Regions from separate parts of the Homo sapiens genome. Here region 2 is linked to region 1. A link means that fine-mapping ties the variant in region 1 to the expression of a gene that starts in the linked region. Tissue or cell type: sun-exposed skin. Region 1 holds a variant in brackets; the other region holds the start of a gene. All regions are shown on one strand. Distances are from middle to middle.

Region 1 (8,420 bases):
TTCCAGTGAATGTTCTACTCTATCCTGAGATCATCAGTGAGCTGTGATTGCCCTGGCCAGAGCCTGAAGGGGAGGGGGTCAGAACGGGGTCACACCCTGATTGCCTGGGCCCTCGCCTGGGAGGGGAGGAGTGTGGCCTGGAGGTGGGGACACCCGCAGCTAGGGTGACTGTGAATTCTAAGGGGCAGAGGATGTGGGCTGGGCTGCGTTATGACTTTTGGGGGCCCTGGGCAGTTTTGCCTTCCTCCATTAAAAAAATACAAAAAATTATATTTTACAATTGTGCTGGTAGAAAGACAAAAACAATCCTGGCTGGATTCATTGTTATATATTCATTTTTTTTTTCTAAATTTAAAAAGGTGAAAAATTAAGATATTTTTGTGGCCTCTAAAAGTACTCCGTGGCTGCTGGAGAAGTTGTCCCTGGGCTACAGGGCCATGAGAATCCGGCCCAGGGCAAGAAACATCCCTGGGTTCAGATGAACCCTCTTTGTGTCCACAGAGATCAACTCTTGTTCACTACTGCATGGCTTCACTTTTCTTTTTTCTTTCCTTCCTTTTTTTTTTTTTTTTCCTTTTTTTTCTTTTAAGGCAGGGTCTCACTCTGTTGCCCAGGCTGGAGTGCAGCGGTGCGATCATAGCTCACTGCAGCCTGAAACTCCTGGGCTCAAGCAATCTTCCCACCTCAGCCTCCGGAGTAGCTGGGACTACAGGCGAGTGTCACCACACTCAGCTAAATTTTGAAAAATGTTTTTGTAGAGATGAGCGTCTCATTATGTTGCCCAGACTTGCTTCACTTTTCAAATGAGGAACCCAAGACTTAGAAGAGGAAGTTGTCCAAGTTCTAAGCTAAGCTAGTGACATTTAGAGTAAGAATGTTGGTATAGACGTTTTGGGTCTGAGCTGCGTGTGATTTCATTACCATGAGCGCTTGTGAGTGTGACCTCATCCCCACACATGGCAGGGGTCTAATGACTGTGAAGCCCACTAATTTAGAGTTTTGTGTGACAGCATGTGGACAGAGTCTGAAGTTAAATTTCCCTTTGCGTTGTCTAGGAAGAAAGGATGTGTAAAGAAAATGCAAAATGTAAACCAGATGGGGATGTATGTAAAGTACTGGAGTAATTTGTTGTTTTCAAGCTTTTAGAAGCATGAATTTATGTTGTCAAACAGCTAACGATAAACCTGTATGCTACACCACAGGTAAGACTTAACTGGTCATTAAAACCGGTTTCCTGAGACCTTTTCTAAGCAATGCACTAAATATGGAAAGCAATACAACATTATTTCTTAAAAAAATAAAAACAACTTCAGATTGGCCCAGCCCAAGCCCAGATCTAGGCATGTTTCTGAATGCTCTTTGCTGGAGTGGAACAGCAGATGAGGCAAAGCTCCTTCAACTGCTAGTTGTGAGTGAACCCACAAACTCATATCAAGTCAACAGCTGTGATTAGCAATAGCTGGTACTAGGGACTGTAGCTCAAAACAAAACAAAGCAAAACAAACAAGCAAAAACCTACCATAACCCAACAGCAAGAGCAAATGGCTCCTTTGAAACCCTGGGTGCCCTTAGCACAACTGAACCTAAATGCTCACACAGCAAGCACTGTGATAAACTTGGGATCTGTAACAACATACATTGCTCGATAAAGTTCCCTTCCCTCCCTTTGTTGAACCTCACATTTCAAAACCTTACTCCACACTTCTGAGGACCCCTACTTCTGGGAATTCCTGCTTTCACAGGAGAGAATGTATTTAATATAATGATTAATCAGGATCATGAATTGCCATGTTTCATTTCCTTTAATAATGAAAATCCATAAGGGTTTAAAATACTCTTAGACACACCTAGCTTAGCAAATATCATGGACCTCTACATTTATGTGAATTCACACATGAGCTAGCCAGCACCTCAGTTCTGGCTGGCCCCCTTTGGCACCAGGACACAATAATTTATTAAGCTTCGATACTTAATAAATGTGCACAAATATCATGCAGACATTACGACCAAACAAAAAATGTATTAGAGACATAGGCTTATACAAAACATCTTGTAAACAAAAGGGAAGAGGTTGATATTTTCTGTACAAAATATGCAGGTTTTTCTTTCTTTTTTAATAATCTGTAAGATGCATCATACTTCTGGCATTTTCAAAAAGTGAAAACTGTATAAAAATAAATATTCTATGTACAAACACACACACAGGCCAATCCAAGGTTAGAGGCATCACTGCAAAACAAAAACAAAACAATGTTCTGTTAGTTTCAGTGGGTCTGCAGAGGTTTATTTCCTTTGTAGGAAGGGAGGTAAATCTTGTCCTGGGTTGGATGGGAGTTCTGGACAGGAGAACTGTGGGAACCCTGAGCCCCTAGGTGAAAGAAACTGGTGGCGACCTTAGCTCCCTGAAGGGAGGAAACCAAGTTCACCTCTCTGTGAATCCCCTTTGTGGTCACTAGAGGGCACTCTCTTTCTCTGCTGCCTTTGGAGGCCTGATTGTTGTAACCACTGCATTGTCCCAGATTGGACTTAAGGTGTGAATGAGTAGTCTTGAAGCTCTCTGGTTGCTTCTCCAAGACATTGCAGCTCTTGGTAGTGGCTGTTCTTCCCCTGCTAAGCACAACCATTTCTGTCTCCTAACCATTGGCAGCAACTTTAAAGAGGAAATTTTTTTAGGGGTCAAGGGTTCAGAGGTCTTATGACACCTCTGACCTGCTTTTGTGGCGCTTTAACTAGGTCTAAGTGGAGCTTGGCAGGAGGACGAGGCCAGCCTCCAGGGATGGATTCTGGGGAGGCATCTCTCTTGAGTGTTGAGCTTTTCCTTCTTGGGTTAGGGGGTGCTTTAGGTATCCAGGCAGGTAGGTGGTCAGCGTTGGCCTGGGGTCTTGGTGGTTTCACCACTTTTACCCAACCCAGTGCACTAGTGAGATTCTGGCATCTTAGTACAGGGGAGCTTGTTCATCTCATTGTAAGTGTGACTCTGCTGCCACTGGAACAGGACTGGATTCGTTGAGCACAGATTCTTGAACATGTTGGAGTCTCCGGTCCCTTTATGAGGATGAACCTTGAGACAATGGTGGTGGGGGGTTGGTGAGAAGACTTGGAGTGACAGGCAAGGTGGAGGGAGACGGTATGGGGCAGCATAGTGGCTGCCACCATTGCTGGGGACCAAGGCGGGTCTTCTGGATTAGTTAGCAAGCAGATGGCCTCTGTCTGCCTGGGCAGCCCTGTGCTCTGGGGAGCCATGGTTGAATGGGGCGATCACATGCAAGGGCACAGTCCTATGATGTCAGACTGCTCTAACAATGGCAAATGCCAAGGCCAGTGTGAATCAATGAAAACTCATTGTTGGTAGGAACTCTGGGAGCCCAGGAGAGATTTGGCTGCAGGTCACATGTGTGGTGGCATGAAGCTCTGCCAGCTTAAATGCAAGGGGAGTGGTAGAGTGGTGAGGAGCACAGCCCCTAGGGGAGGCACAGTAGCATGTGAGTTCAGAGTGAAAGCAACTGAGATGTCCTACGTCTAAGACATGTCATCACGTGGCATAAACGACCTTAGAGGAACTCTATGAGTGTGATCTGGAACTCCTTGGGGAAGTTCCTTGGGGGAAAGACACTATGTACATTGAACACACAAAGCATAAAGATGTCACCTGTGTGGCTGCATGGACATTCCGCCTAGGGTTTACTGATGTTCTAAGAAGCATTTTAAAATGTTTGTTAACAGCATGCAGTGTATGGGATGTTTAATGGGCACCCTGCCTTTGAGACAGTGACTATTTGACCTATGTCTTGCTGCCTCATCTGTAGCAAGGCAGAATGGAAATTGTGGAAGCTTTATGGCACTGCTGAGAACGGAGCCCCAGTGCACACCAATGGGAAGCCTTACCTTGTTCCAGCAGCCTTGGACTGGTAAGCCATCTTCGCCCTGCAAGGAGAAAGGAAGGCAGAGGGCTCAGACTTCCTGCAATGGTCCACCAAGTGGGCAGGACAGGGGTAACAAGGGCCACACGCATTTTGGCAGCTGATCAGGATGTGGCCCACCCACGCTTGTCTATTTCTTTTCTCTACTACAGGTCAGAACCTCAGAAGGAGGTGGAAACAAATCCGGCTATTTTACCATTGGTTAAAGGTCACATGCAGCTATAGTGCAACGTCAATAGGGGCTGTCCTAGCCCGTGGGACCAGCAAGCAGAGATGTCCTTCCGTGCCACGAAGAAACAGTCTCTGCTGTGGCCCTATGGAGTGCCGGCTGCTCACGGGTAAGCCACTCAGCACAAGGCGGCCTCAGTTTCCTCCTCCATAAAACCTTGGCAAGGACAGTTGCTTGATGTGACCGCTAAGGGCCTTCCCAGCCTTCTCATTCTCTTATTTGTCTCTCTTCCTAAGCACAGGGAGGAGGACATGTAGACAGTCCTTCTTTGATGATTAATCCTGGGGTGGGGTGAGGGGCATGAAGGGACAGGCAACCTCATGAGTATTGCAGGATGGCCCTGA[C/G]ATGCCTTTGGCAAGAAGACAAGGGTTCCTGGCGAAGCCTTAGACCTTGCTGGGAATTTGGGGGTGAAGTGCAGTAAAAACATGGGAATCAACTGCACACCGTCGGTCTCCTTTGTTGGTAGCAACCATGCAGCTCCTTTAGCCTCAAGATGTTCGTGTTCTGCCCTTGGTGATAGAAACTTTCCTGAGTTTTCTTGGGCCCTCATATCCTCTCCTTGCTGGCATACCCTATGGGGAATCTAGAAATCTAGAGACCCAGTGGGGAAGGCGAGGCTGGGCCAAGGGCAAAGGTCTGGTTCTCAGCCCAAGTCTGCTAGACTGGCAGGGCAGACAAGGAGATGGACATGGGGCTTCAGGAGACCCGGAGCAAGTGCTCAGTCCTGAGGGAGCTTGTGGAATGAGAGTCCTCTGCTGCCCTGGTCTGACGTCATCCACCCACGCCAGGGGCTGAAACCTCTCATCACCTGGCATTCAGCAGAAATTGGTCCCAATATGGAGGGCTTAGGAAGTCTGGTTATCTTGTAGTAAAAGTCATGAGCAATAGCTACCCCTGCCCCTCAAGCCCATAATAACACAGAGGAGGAGGCAGAGTGAGAAACAAGGGGAAGACACTTCCCCAGTAAAATTAATAGAAAATTGACACATTGATATGGGATGTTATGGAAGAAAATGCCATTTTACATGGAGAGTCAAATCAGGGTGACCTTCATTTTCCCCTCTGGGTTGGGGAGGGGATTGCAGGGGGAGGAGGTGCATTCCACAGTTTCAGGGTGACCCTGTGCCCCTTCCCCAGCCTGCCACGGTGCGGTATGACACACGTCACATGGATGCCGGGAGGGAGAGGAGCCTCTGTGGGCCAGAGCGGCATTCCCATTGGTGTGTGGATGGTGGCAGGGGGATATGGAGGGCAGGGCAGGCAGAGAATGAAAAGTAATGTATGGTGAGGAACAGAGAGGCCAAGGCAGCTGCTGGCAGAACTAAAGGTGCCCAGATTGTGGGAGGGGATTGTGGCTGAGGGAAGACCTGGCCAGTGCTCAAGGGAGCCCCTGCGGGCCAGAGCGGCATTCCCATTGGTGCGTGGATGGTGGAAGTCCTGGTTGAGAAAGGTGGCTGTGCAGTCTGCAAGCGCAGGGTTTGGCAGGACCAGCAGGGACAGGAAGCATGCTACCCGCCTGCTTGCTCTGCACTCTCCTTTTGTTGCCTATGCTCCTCCTAAAAAGTCCCTACTGCCCTTCAAGGGGCTCTACGACCACCTTTCAGGGTCACACAGCATAATTTCTTGTATCTTTTTCTCTTTTGTTCAAAGAGAATTCCTGTGTGACCCCAGGGCGGGGATGTGAGACCCCAAATTCTCTTATTACTGGTATGATAAAATAGCTCTTGAACTCCAAACCTATTGGGGAAATTTGGGGAGAGCTGTAACCCCTTGAGCCTTGGAGTGAAGTGTTCCCTTCAGCTTCTTTTGCAGTAAGAGGATCAGCGTGGAGGCCTAGACTGTCCATGCCTAGAGAGGGACTGGGCAGGCGGGAATAAACTGCTACCACTTCGCCTGGGACGTGCTTGGAAGAGAGGTCCTTAGCTGTCTCCCTGCCTCCTCCTTAACTACATTCTTGACCTTTCCGTCTCTCCCAGACTCTTCAGTAAGAAGCCATCTGATCATGAAAGAAAGGGACGAGGAAGGGTCTGGTAATGTCTTTGGAGATTTAAGCAAGAAGGACAAACCCTTTAGGATCCGAAAACCTAATCCTGGACCATCCCCTAGTTCTGATGGTGTCACCTGGGCAGCGACCCACGATCCAACCTGGAAGAATAGGCAGGTGGCCCCTCCTCCAGCTCACTTCTAGAGCTTCTCAGTCTACTCTGTAATCATGCCCTTCTGTCCCCCAAATCATGTGATGGAGGAGCAGGGGATACAGGGCTGATCAGGCATCTCATTCACATGTTTCGCTAGGTGCTCAGCCAGTGATTCTGAACTAACTTCACTGCCTGAAGGAAAAGAAGTGAGTCATGGTTCTGAAAACCAGTCCAGAGAATCCACTTTCCTAGCTGGTATCTGGTGGCAGCTTTGTCTAGAATCAGCTTGGAGATGAGTATCAGAGGCAGCCAAAACCAACTTCAGGGTGGGAGAGCTGGCTGGCATCAAGTGGCTGTGCTTTAGAGGTAGCTGCAGCAGGAAGCCAGGAAACATCCCAGTAAACTTTGCATGCAAGAGGGTGGCATGACTGGGAGCCCCCAGAGTACTAGCCTAGGCGGGGTGACCCTTGGCATTTACAGAATGAAGAAGTGGGAAGTGGAGCCTGGGGGGGATGGAGGAGGAGTGTGGAGGGTGGCTGGGGAGAAACCCAGTATGAATCACACACATGGGGAAGCCCAAATCGGCCATGCAGGCAAGCAAGGGCAATGCCATACCAATGGGCATGGGGCATCCAGTCCGTCCAGCCCTGGTAACCCCGGCTCCCCTTTCTCTCCTTTAAAACCTCGGTGTCCCTGTTCACAAAACCAACCACGATGATTATTCAGGTCAAGGCTGGCCAGCTCCAACCATGGAATAGAGAGGCCCAGTCCTACCCTGGCCAGGATGCAGGACCCTTGAGGCATCTACAAACAGGGGCTAAATCCCAGGTGATCCCCCATCTCCCAAATCCAGCTTTTGTGCTCTCTTTGTGCTCTGGAGAGTTCAGCTTTGCACACATACAACCTGCCCCCTCTCCGTTGATCCTCCTCTCTCTACAGACTCACTTAGTGTAAACACAGACAAACTTCAACTTTAGTGCATCATAATTTTTAGAACCTTCAAATGGATTCAAAGGCACTTGAGAAACCCAGCAGAAGTGCCTCATCATTAATTGCTGGCTCTTTTGAGAAGGCTTCCCATGGGGTGTCTGTCTGACTACCAGTTCTGGTCTGCAGCTTTAAAGGTTTCAGCTGGATGGCTGGTGAGTGTTGGGAGGCTGTGCATTAGAAGCCCCTCATCTGGCCTTGTTCTGCCCAGTTTTGAGCATCAGTGGCCCTGAGGAGACGCTAACTCTGGTGTCCTGCATCCTGATCAAGTGAGGATTCAGACAGCTTGAACTACTGGCCCACAGAGGTGGCCATGAAACGAAGAAGGCAAATCCGTGGCTCACAAATGCTACACTGGCTTCCAAAGCCATCCTGGAGCTAAGAGCTGAGGCCTTCCCTGAAAATCCCTTTCCTAGTGGTTTCCTCACTTCCACACATCGATTGCTCTGTATCTTCAAAGGAAAAGGATTCAAAGGCAAGGGATTTAGCCAGAATTACTTGCAGCTGTGGTTACAAAGCAAATCCAACAGCGGGCAGAATTTCACCAGTCAAATGAACAGAGAGATTTTGGTAGCATCCGTGTAGACATTTGGTTCTCATCTTAGTTTATTTGCCTTCTTTGTTTCCAACTTACAAACCTCAAGAACAAAAACCAGAACAATGCAAGTGATAAACAAAAACATACCAATGGGCAGGGGGCATCTAATCCAGGCGCTCCTTGGTCTCCCTTATCCCCTTTAGGCCCTCTAGAGCCTTTCTTCCCCCTCTCCCCCTGTAAATAATGGTTTAGTCCGAGAAAAAAACATCAAAACTTTAAGATCATTCATGTGTTAAGGTTGAAGACAGAAAAAGAAAAATAAAATTAAAAAGGGAAAAAGAGATGCTTTAAATTAGGATATTCTCCCCAGTAGGATTTGGAGTCAATACCCACCTCCTCCCCACCCCCCAGGAACCTGAGAATTTGGCTAAGGTGGGTGGGAGGGGGAGGGGAGGACAGGCAGAGGGCTCAGAGCTGCAGGTGCAGGGAACCACAGACTGAAGATTTTGGTGGCCGGTTTTGCTAATACTAAGCCCAGCGTGGGTCTGTGCTGAACACAGTGGCTAGGGACCAACTTCCTTCTCTTTGAGTCTGTTTTTGAAAGGCTT
Region 2 (8,180 bases), 96 kb before region 1:
CACCCTCCCTTCAAGTCCAAAACTCTCTTCTCCCTTTACAAACTACTGTAGTAAATTTTTTGTGTATATCGTTATGTATTAATTATGTATTATCATTATGTATTATCAATCACTTTAAAATTATTACTTGTATTTAGTTATCCAAGCAAGACATACATTAATTCAAATTACAGAACTTGGCCGGGCATGGTGGCACACGCCTGTAATCCCAGCACTTTGGGAGGCACAAGCTTGTAGTCCCAGCTACTAGGGAGGCTGAGGCAGGAGGATCACTTGAGCCTAGGAGATGGAGGTTGCAGTGAGCTGAGATTGTGCCAATGCACTCCAGCCTGGACAAGAGATACTCCATCTCAACAAAACAAAACAAAACAAACAAAAAAAACAAATTACAGAACTTCAAATATTGTAACAAGGTTATGGATGGGTATCAATAATGATATGGCTAAAGCCCTTCTTGACAATTCCTCTAGTTCTTGTCTCTCTTAGTGGGCATCTTCTATACTTTTTCTGTCCATTTTGTATGAATTTTTACTTATAGAGATGTATAATTTTATATCGTTTTAATATCAATAGTACCATATAGTATGTACTGTTCTGCAATTTGCTTTTTTCATTAATAGTACATCTTGGTGATCTTTTTCTGTCTCAGTATGTATAGATCTGCTTCATTCTTTTGAACTGCTGCCTAATATTCCAGAAGACAGATGCACCAGAGTTTATTTAGCCATTCCCTGTTGATGGCTGTTAGGCTGTTTTCTACTTCAGAATGACCAAAATTGCAATGAACATCCTTATACATGCTGAGCTCACGGATGCCTGCTTCTTTGGGTGACATACTGAGAAATGGAATGGTGAGTCACAGAATGTGTGCATTATTAATTTTATAGTGCCAAACTGCTCTTCCAATTGGTTATATCAATTTACACACCAGTCAGCAGTATATGAAAGTACCTGTTTTCCCACTAGCTTGCCAAAATCACTTTTTACCTTGTTTTACCTGCATGTATATTTTATCTCCTAGGCTTGGGGTTGTAAGCTTTATGAGAGAAGGGCCCAATGACTTCCTTATATTTCATTTCTTTCCCTATCTAGAGGTGTTTAAGAATTGGTGTATACTCAGGAGGCTGAGATGGGAGGACCCCTTGAACCCAGGATTTCGAGACCAGTCTGAGCAATATAGCGAGACCCCCATCTCAAAACAACAACAAAACAAACAACAAAAGACTTGGTGCTCAATAAGTGTTTGTTGAATGATCTCTAACCACAAGTTCTTTGTTAATCTCTGTGCAATATACTTTCCATTTACCAAGACTGCATCTAACTTGGAGGTTATTTCTTAAGGTTGAAAAACATTCTTAAGAAAGTTGGCTGAATTTTTGCACATCCCTCCCCGGTAACAAGTTACAGATACCTTTCATTTAAAGTTGCCTAAGACAGGACTCACCTCCTGTTCTGCTGGCAGGAGGCAGTGAAAACAGATGTGGTTGTCTCAGACAATAGCTAGCAGGGTGTCCCACCCACTGGGAAATGGCAGACCAGAGGCGCTTTAAAAATCCTGGGAACCAGACAGAAGATGGAATGGTGAGGGAGTAGGGTCAGAATCACAGGGACACTCCGGATTCAAGGAGGTAAATTCTTTTACGCAGTTTTGATATAGAGGAAACCACTAATAATGTGTAAAGTCTGACAATTAATGGATCCAGGTGAGGTGTAACTGTGGTAGGATAGGAAAAACCAGAGAAGAGGAGAACTGGGCATGTTTTAAAAGGAAATTTGGCTACAGGAAAGAGGGGTTATGAAGATGTGAATTATGCGACTCAAGATAAACTTTTCCGCCGGGCAGTGCCTCTATTTATTTATATGTAATTTTAGGCTAAAACAATTCTAAAAATCACCAGTATGTTTCCAAATCTTGGAGCTCTTAACATTTAGTTTGAAAATAAAAAGTGTGTTAAAACGGATTGAGAATTATGTGTAGCTTAGTTTGTGGTTCAAAACAACACACACGAAGACACGTTCTCGCTCTTAATAATGTTTTCTTTTTCTCTCACCTATTGAACCGTTTCAGTAGCAACTGTGCAGCCCAGTGAGGTGACAATTGGATTTCAAAACAAACACAAATGAGCAAAGTGAGGAAACCATTTGCCGCGGTGGACTAATGGCCCCTAGGGGATCCTGGGGTCTGTGGGGCTTAGAACTGGGCCCTTGTTTTGAATTCCTCTGAGGTGGACAGAAGCTGGAAGGACACCTCAGTTCCAGCGTGGCTGTGACAGGGTAACTGCCCTTAAAATCAGGGCAGCGGAGCCACGGTTCCCATCGCGTCCCCTCAAACACTCAGGGCCCCGCACTTTGGTTTCTCAGCCCATTTCTTCTCGCGCCTTTCATCCCTTCACTCATCCAGGGCCGTTGCCAAAAAACCCTGGCAAGGACCAGGCCTCAGTCAGGCCCACGGTGGTCCACTGCACGCGACGGGAAACTCCTGGAGGAAGCTCGTTTGGCCCTTGGGGAACCAATGCCCCTTTGGCCATTGTTGTAAGGAACAAAGAGGGCAAGAACTGAGGGCGCCCCCCCAAGGAAAGGCGGGGGAGGACACCCACGGGCGATCCGGGGGGCTGGCCGGGCTGGGGCTGAGGTGCGCCGGGGCTGGAGGCTGGGAGCCGGGGGAGGCAGGGCTGGTCCCCAACCGCCGCGCCCCGCGAGCGATACGCACGGCGTCCGGCGCCCGGCAGAGCCCTTTCCTGCGCCGCAGCCAGTTTACTTTTATTCCCTTTTTCGATATTTTTATTATTATTATTTTTTCCCGCGCAAAGCGGGAGCCAGACTGCCCAGGCGAGCCACGGCCGGGCCGCCATTTCCCGGTGAAAGCGCAGCGCGCGTCGGCACCGGGCGCCCCGGAAAGGGAACCGAAGGGGAGTGCCCGGCCTCGCGCCCTCTTCCGCGCCGGCCCCGGGGCGCACGCCCGCCCGCGGCGCCCGGGTGTCCGCGCAGCAACCCCCAGCCCTCGCCCCGCCACCCGGCGTCCCCGACCTGACCTTCCCCGGCGCGGCCCGCCCCCGGACTCGGGTCCCTAACCTCCGCCCGGCTGCTCCGCGCCCCCTCCATTGTCAGCCTGGAGCCGCCGGCGCCCTGCCCGGGCACCTTCAGAGGCCCCCGAGCGGCCCTCCCCGGGCTCCCTCGGGCCCTGCGCAGCCCCCCACCCATCGCCCCGTGCCCATCGGCGGCCGGGCGCCTCCGTCCTCCCGCTCCTGCGCCCGAAACTCCGCATTCCCAGGAGACCTCCGCTTCCTCCGGGTCCAGCCTCGCCTGGGGCCCGCTGCTGAACCTCGCATCCCTCCTCCTTCCCCTCTCAGTACCCTCGACGCCCCCGGCCCCTCGCTGGCCGCAGGAATTTGACCACTTCTTTAGCAGCCCCCCCTTTATCGCCCAAGGAAGCAAGTTGGGCAGCTGGATTTAAGAATTTGTTTTTGCAGAGGGTGGGTCGGCTATCGAGGGTGCGCCCGCAGGGGCTCGGGGGAGAGGCAGAGGTGGTTCTCTCCGGCCCCTGCACTGCCCCGGCGGCGCGTTTTGTTTCCAGACCCCGGAGCACCCTAAACAATAATGCCATCGCCATGGCGGGCTCACCTGGTGCTGCGCCGCCTGCTCCCGGCGCCCGGTGCCCTCTGCGCGCCCCTCCACGGGCGCAGGTTTGGCCCACGCGGCGCCGGTGCCGGGCAGGACTCTTTGCCTTTCTTTGGGTTCTATCTGTGCGTGTCAATGGCGGCAAGCGGCAGTTCTCTGGGCCGCGGATAGTAGCGGGGGGAGGAGGAGGAGGGAGAAGGGATTGCTCCTTCTCCACATAACCACCTCTAGGAGGAGTTGCTCAGCCTCATCCCCCGCCAGCCCAGGCTCCGCGACGGGTCCGGGGCTTTCGGTGGGGCTTGATGAGCTATTGTCCTTCAGGAGTATTAATGGTGAAACCGCGCGGCCTCCGCGTACTTGGCCGATCTGCGAGACGAGCCGAGGGCCACTCGCTAACATGAGGCTTTCCCCAGAACTGGGCACAAACGCGCTATGGTCGCGATCCAGTCTCCTGTTAGCTGGATCCACCTTTGGTGGGAGAAGGTGGCGTGGGCGTTCATCTGGCAGCTCTGGGGAGAGTCTTCGAAGGGGAAAGCGAAAAATGCCACCTTCTATATTTTTGTGTCCTTAAATAATAACAAGTACATTAACGTTTGTGTCCACCACTGGGAAGAGTGCATAGGGCGGCCACAGCCACGAGAGCTGAGAATTTATATCCGTGCCTGTAGGCTTTTTAGAAATTAAGACCGATTTAGAATCCAGCGTTGCATAATATTTGGAGAGGCAGATGTATGTTTTGGTGGGTGAGACTGTGTGTATGGGCATAATTTTTAATTGGGTTGCTTTACAAGGTGTTAATTTGCAATATCCCAACGGGTATTTAGATGAGCGCGAGGCTATTGTCTTCAGGACCAGTTTTTATTAGTTACTAGAAAATGCATCTTTATGGGGGTGTGGTGGACACTGTCGGGTGTGATAATGGGGATTAGCAGTTGCTGTGTTCCTAGTGGAAGCCAGTCTCGGCTTTGTATTGTGAGTTGTTGGCCAGGGCTCCATGGCTGGAGGGGAGTCAAAAGAATGTGTTTATTTCAGTGGGAAATACTAACTTGCTGTGGACCATCCAGGTTTCCTCTGATTTCTCCTACAGTCAAAGGACTGTGAGAGGCAACATTTTGATCCCTTCCAAAAAGAGAAACCGGTGCAAACAGAATTCTCCAGCCTTGGCCAAATGGCTGATTTTTAAAGCTGTTACATTTGGTAATATTGTGTATATTTGCTACTACAAACTTGTAACTATTTAGGCAGTGGGGACTTTGGAGTGACTGAAAGCCTCCCAGTGCCTGAGTGGGAAGAACTCATGCCTACCACCCTCTGCGTCTCTACTAGTTAGTTAATCATGGCTATTGCTGGCGTTTATAGATAGCGGGTTAGGTTTAGAACATGTGCATTTTAAAGTGTATTTGCTGAGAAATCAGCCATGTTTCTCTCTGACTTCCTCCAAATCACGCATATATCATCAACATATGCATAAGCCTCTATTTCAGTCTCCTATGGCTTCTCAAACTCCCCTGGACTCAACAGTCTCTGTTTCTTGGGGCTTCCTTTACTCTTTTCCTAAGCCTTTCACGCCCTCTGTGTATGACCTCACTGTTCTTTGTCTTGGAAGGTATTTTCCAGGTCAGATATCCAGTCAGGATAAAGTCTTCTTTCCCCAAGATGTATATTTAAAGGGTTTCAAATGATCCCCTGGGGCATCCCATAATGATGTCCTTTCCCATTCCTAAAGAAAGGGTCTCTCTTCTTATACCTTCAGGTGTCCATTCTTCACCAGAAATAACCATCAAGCCAACATTCAAGAGAGTTCAGGAGTTTTCTATGAGTGCTTGAAAAATACTCATACTCTGTCATCCAGTCAGCCAGGCTGACTGAAATATAGTTGAATAATTCATCAGTAGATATTAGATTCACATTCTCCTTGTAATTTCCCAATAAAAGTGGCATATGTGGTCATTTTTATGTGAATTTTATATAACAGTTCATTCTAGCATTTTGTTATGTGCTATCCTGAGAGAGGCTGGATCTAGTAAATTTACTGGTTAGGATTCTCCCATTTCATACTGGTTGGTTTCTTCAGACAGATGATGCTGTCACAACTCAGAAAATCAAGGAAGAGGTCAGCTTCAAAATACTCTGATTCTTAGGATAAAAGGGTTCTTAGAGTTCACCTAGTGGAAACCTTTGCTATAGGAAGAAATCTGGTATTTGGAAGGGTGAAATGACTCAGCCATGGCCTCGCAGGACATTAGTGGGAGATCCTCCAATGCATGTCCAGATACCCAGTCAATGCAGTTTCCGCCAATTCCAAACTTTTCAGGATGTATAGGGGACAAATATGCCACTTAATATGCAGATCTAGTTGAATTATGTGTGTTTAATACCGAACATTTAACACATAAAAATTTAACACTGAGATAGTATCATATAATATTATATAAAATTAAAATACATTTTAAAAAGTCAACATGATCATAAGTTGATAAGTAATCTAGAGTTCCGCAGTGGTCTCTAGCTCGGGGAACCTCTGACAAGTTGAATAATAAAGAATGATAAGAGCTTACACTTATTGAATGTTTACTATGTGCACTGTACTAAGCACTTTATCCTAACTTATTTAATCCTTTCAACACTTGTATGGGGCAAGCACTATTTTCTCCTTTTTACAGACTGAGGCAGGGAGTGGATGAGAAACTTTCCCACAGTTATAGAGTTAGGAAGTGGCAGATCCATGCTCTTAATCACTGCCTTAATCTGAAGGTGGAGAAGTGCATTTGTTTTAAGCAAAGGAATTTTGCACTCAGTCACATGATCTGAGTCTAAGAGGGGCCCTTGGGCCCCTCCCAATAAATGTCCCTAAGGAGTCAGCAAACAGCCTAATTACAGGAGGGTTGGTTGATTACAGTTGCACTGAAAACATTTTCTTAACCCTTGACCTGTATGTGTGCATAATATTATGAATACAGGTATTGATTGTGAGTTGACTCCATTACAGCAAACATGTCTTTAATAATTTTATTGAGATGCAGGATGAAGCACTTCTCCATTTAGAGAGAGGCATGTAGCATAATTTAGAGATGAAAAAAAAAAAAGAATCAAATGAATCAGTCATCCAACCAGATTTGTATCCTATTGGGTTGCTAGTAATTCATCCACAAAATCATCTACTTCAAAAATAGCTTCATTGATTTACCCCCCAAACCCTTTTTCTTGATCCAAATTTGTGATTTTGTGTAAACTGAGTGGACTTTTATTTTTCATGATTAGTTCTAATCAGTTTACGATACATATTATAATTTGTGATCATTTTACCCTCCTAGGATCTTAATATGCAATTACCTTAGTAATTTCCTGACTTTGCATCTTCCAGAATTTACCTATGTGCATGTAGGTATATATTTATATCTGGCATATGTAAGTATATGCGTAAGATTTGTAGATCTAAATTAATTTTATTTGGGAATTTCTGATCTCCTTTGAAGTAACCTGAGATTCCCTGGGAGTGTCATAGAAACAGATGGAAATCATTGGTTTATGCACTTCTTTGGATGTAAGTTAGGAACTCTAGACACTGTATTAATTTTATCAAGACACCAACTGGTATAACTCTAAATAACAATGTGGGAGCTTGAGGTTATGAATGCAGACAAAGCACCAGGCTAACAGTATCCCACCCTGTGAAAGAATAAACACAGCGTCCAAAAGTACGTTGTAGCTAGGAAAATACTGGACAATTTGACACATAAATTTTTGTTTAAGCTGGAAACTTACAAAGTCTTTCCTGTTTTTATATTTTGAATAGTGAACATGATTGGTGTTAAACTTTTATTTCCTTGATCACGACTGATGACTTTAGGATCTTAATCATGTGTGGAGGGGGAATAATATCCTTAAAAAAAAAAGGACACGCAGGCAATCATTAGGCCAACAAAGACTATGCTTATAATTTCTGGCTAAAATGAATGTCTTGGTCTCCTAGCAAAAGAAACATTTTACTAGTCCTGGTTCTTAAAAACAGTGACAAACTATGTCTTTTTTGATACTAAGTCTTGACCCTTTGGTTCTGGGAAAGGGGATTTGCATGAGTAGGTATGTGTGTGTATAGATGCATATTTAGATATGTACATTTATATATGAATCAAATATTTGATGCATATGTTACATGTGTATACCTTGTAAGATGAGTAATGACTGAGATTCCAGTGTGCTCAGAGTTAGGGCTGGTTTGGATTTTAAAGAAATCTACCGAATGTTTAGCGTTTAACTGATGAACTATATTGTAAAAGAAAATGAAGTGTTTCAGCTTTTTAAGACAAATACACTGTCAGTCCCAATTATGCAAAGTTGTGGTTAGGAAAATAAGGCACGTGGTATCATTACGTTTAATGGAAACAGAGCCCAGAGCTAAGGGGAGTGTGCCAGTTGGTAACTTGCTCTGATCGGTTACGGAGCTTTCTGGGAGATCATCCTGTTACCTCCAGGCAGAGTTCTTTGTGACAATTGTGATGAGAAGTGGCAGCAAGTATCCAGAGAGTTTGGACTTTAGCATCTGTGTTGGCAGATCTGTG

Direction of the effects. Alleles are on the strand shown, and positions count from the first base shown. SD is a standard deviation of normalised expression in the study named.
In carriers of allele G in region 1, the expression in sun-exposed skin of the gene that starts at base 3,776 in region 2 tends to be lower than with C alone (moderate effect, 0.42 SD a copy in GTEx).

What was found. PIP is the estimated chance that this variant, and not a neighbour inherited with it, causes the effect.
Region 2: MACROH2A2 starts here. The variant in region 1 is fine-mapped to the expression of MACROH2A2 in sun-exposed skin (GTEx, PIP above 0.99). The same link has a PIP of 0.9 or more in esophagus mucosa and unexposed skin.

What each region holds. Positions count from the first base shown.
Region 1 is chr10:69,952,508-69,960,927 of GRCh38, reverse strand. It overlaps COL13A1 (collagen type XIII alpha 1 chain), which reads right to left. Exons shown (of 41, transcript NM_001368882.1): 39 at 7,960-8,046; 40 at 3,886-3,924; 41 at 1,784-2,229. The coding sequence ends at 2,227. It overlaps LOC107984242 (a long non-coding RNA gene), which reads left to right. Exons shown (of 4, transcript XR_007062181.1): 3 at 4,073-4,258; 4 at 5,950-6,033. Among named protein-coding and RNA genes, the nearest start is that of LINC02636, 53 kb to the left of the region's middle. RefSeq lists a silencer at 4,040-4,109. The variant C/G (reference allele first, on the strand shown) is at 4,494.
Region 2 is chr10:70,048,442-70,056,621 of GRCh38, reverse strand. It overlaps MACROH2A2 (macroH2A.2 histone), which reads right to left and starts at 3,776. Exons shown (of 9, transcript NM_018649.3): 1 at 3,622-3,776.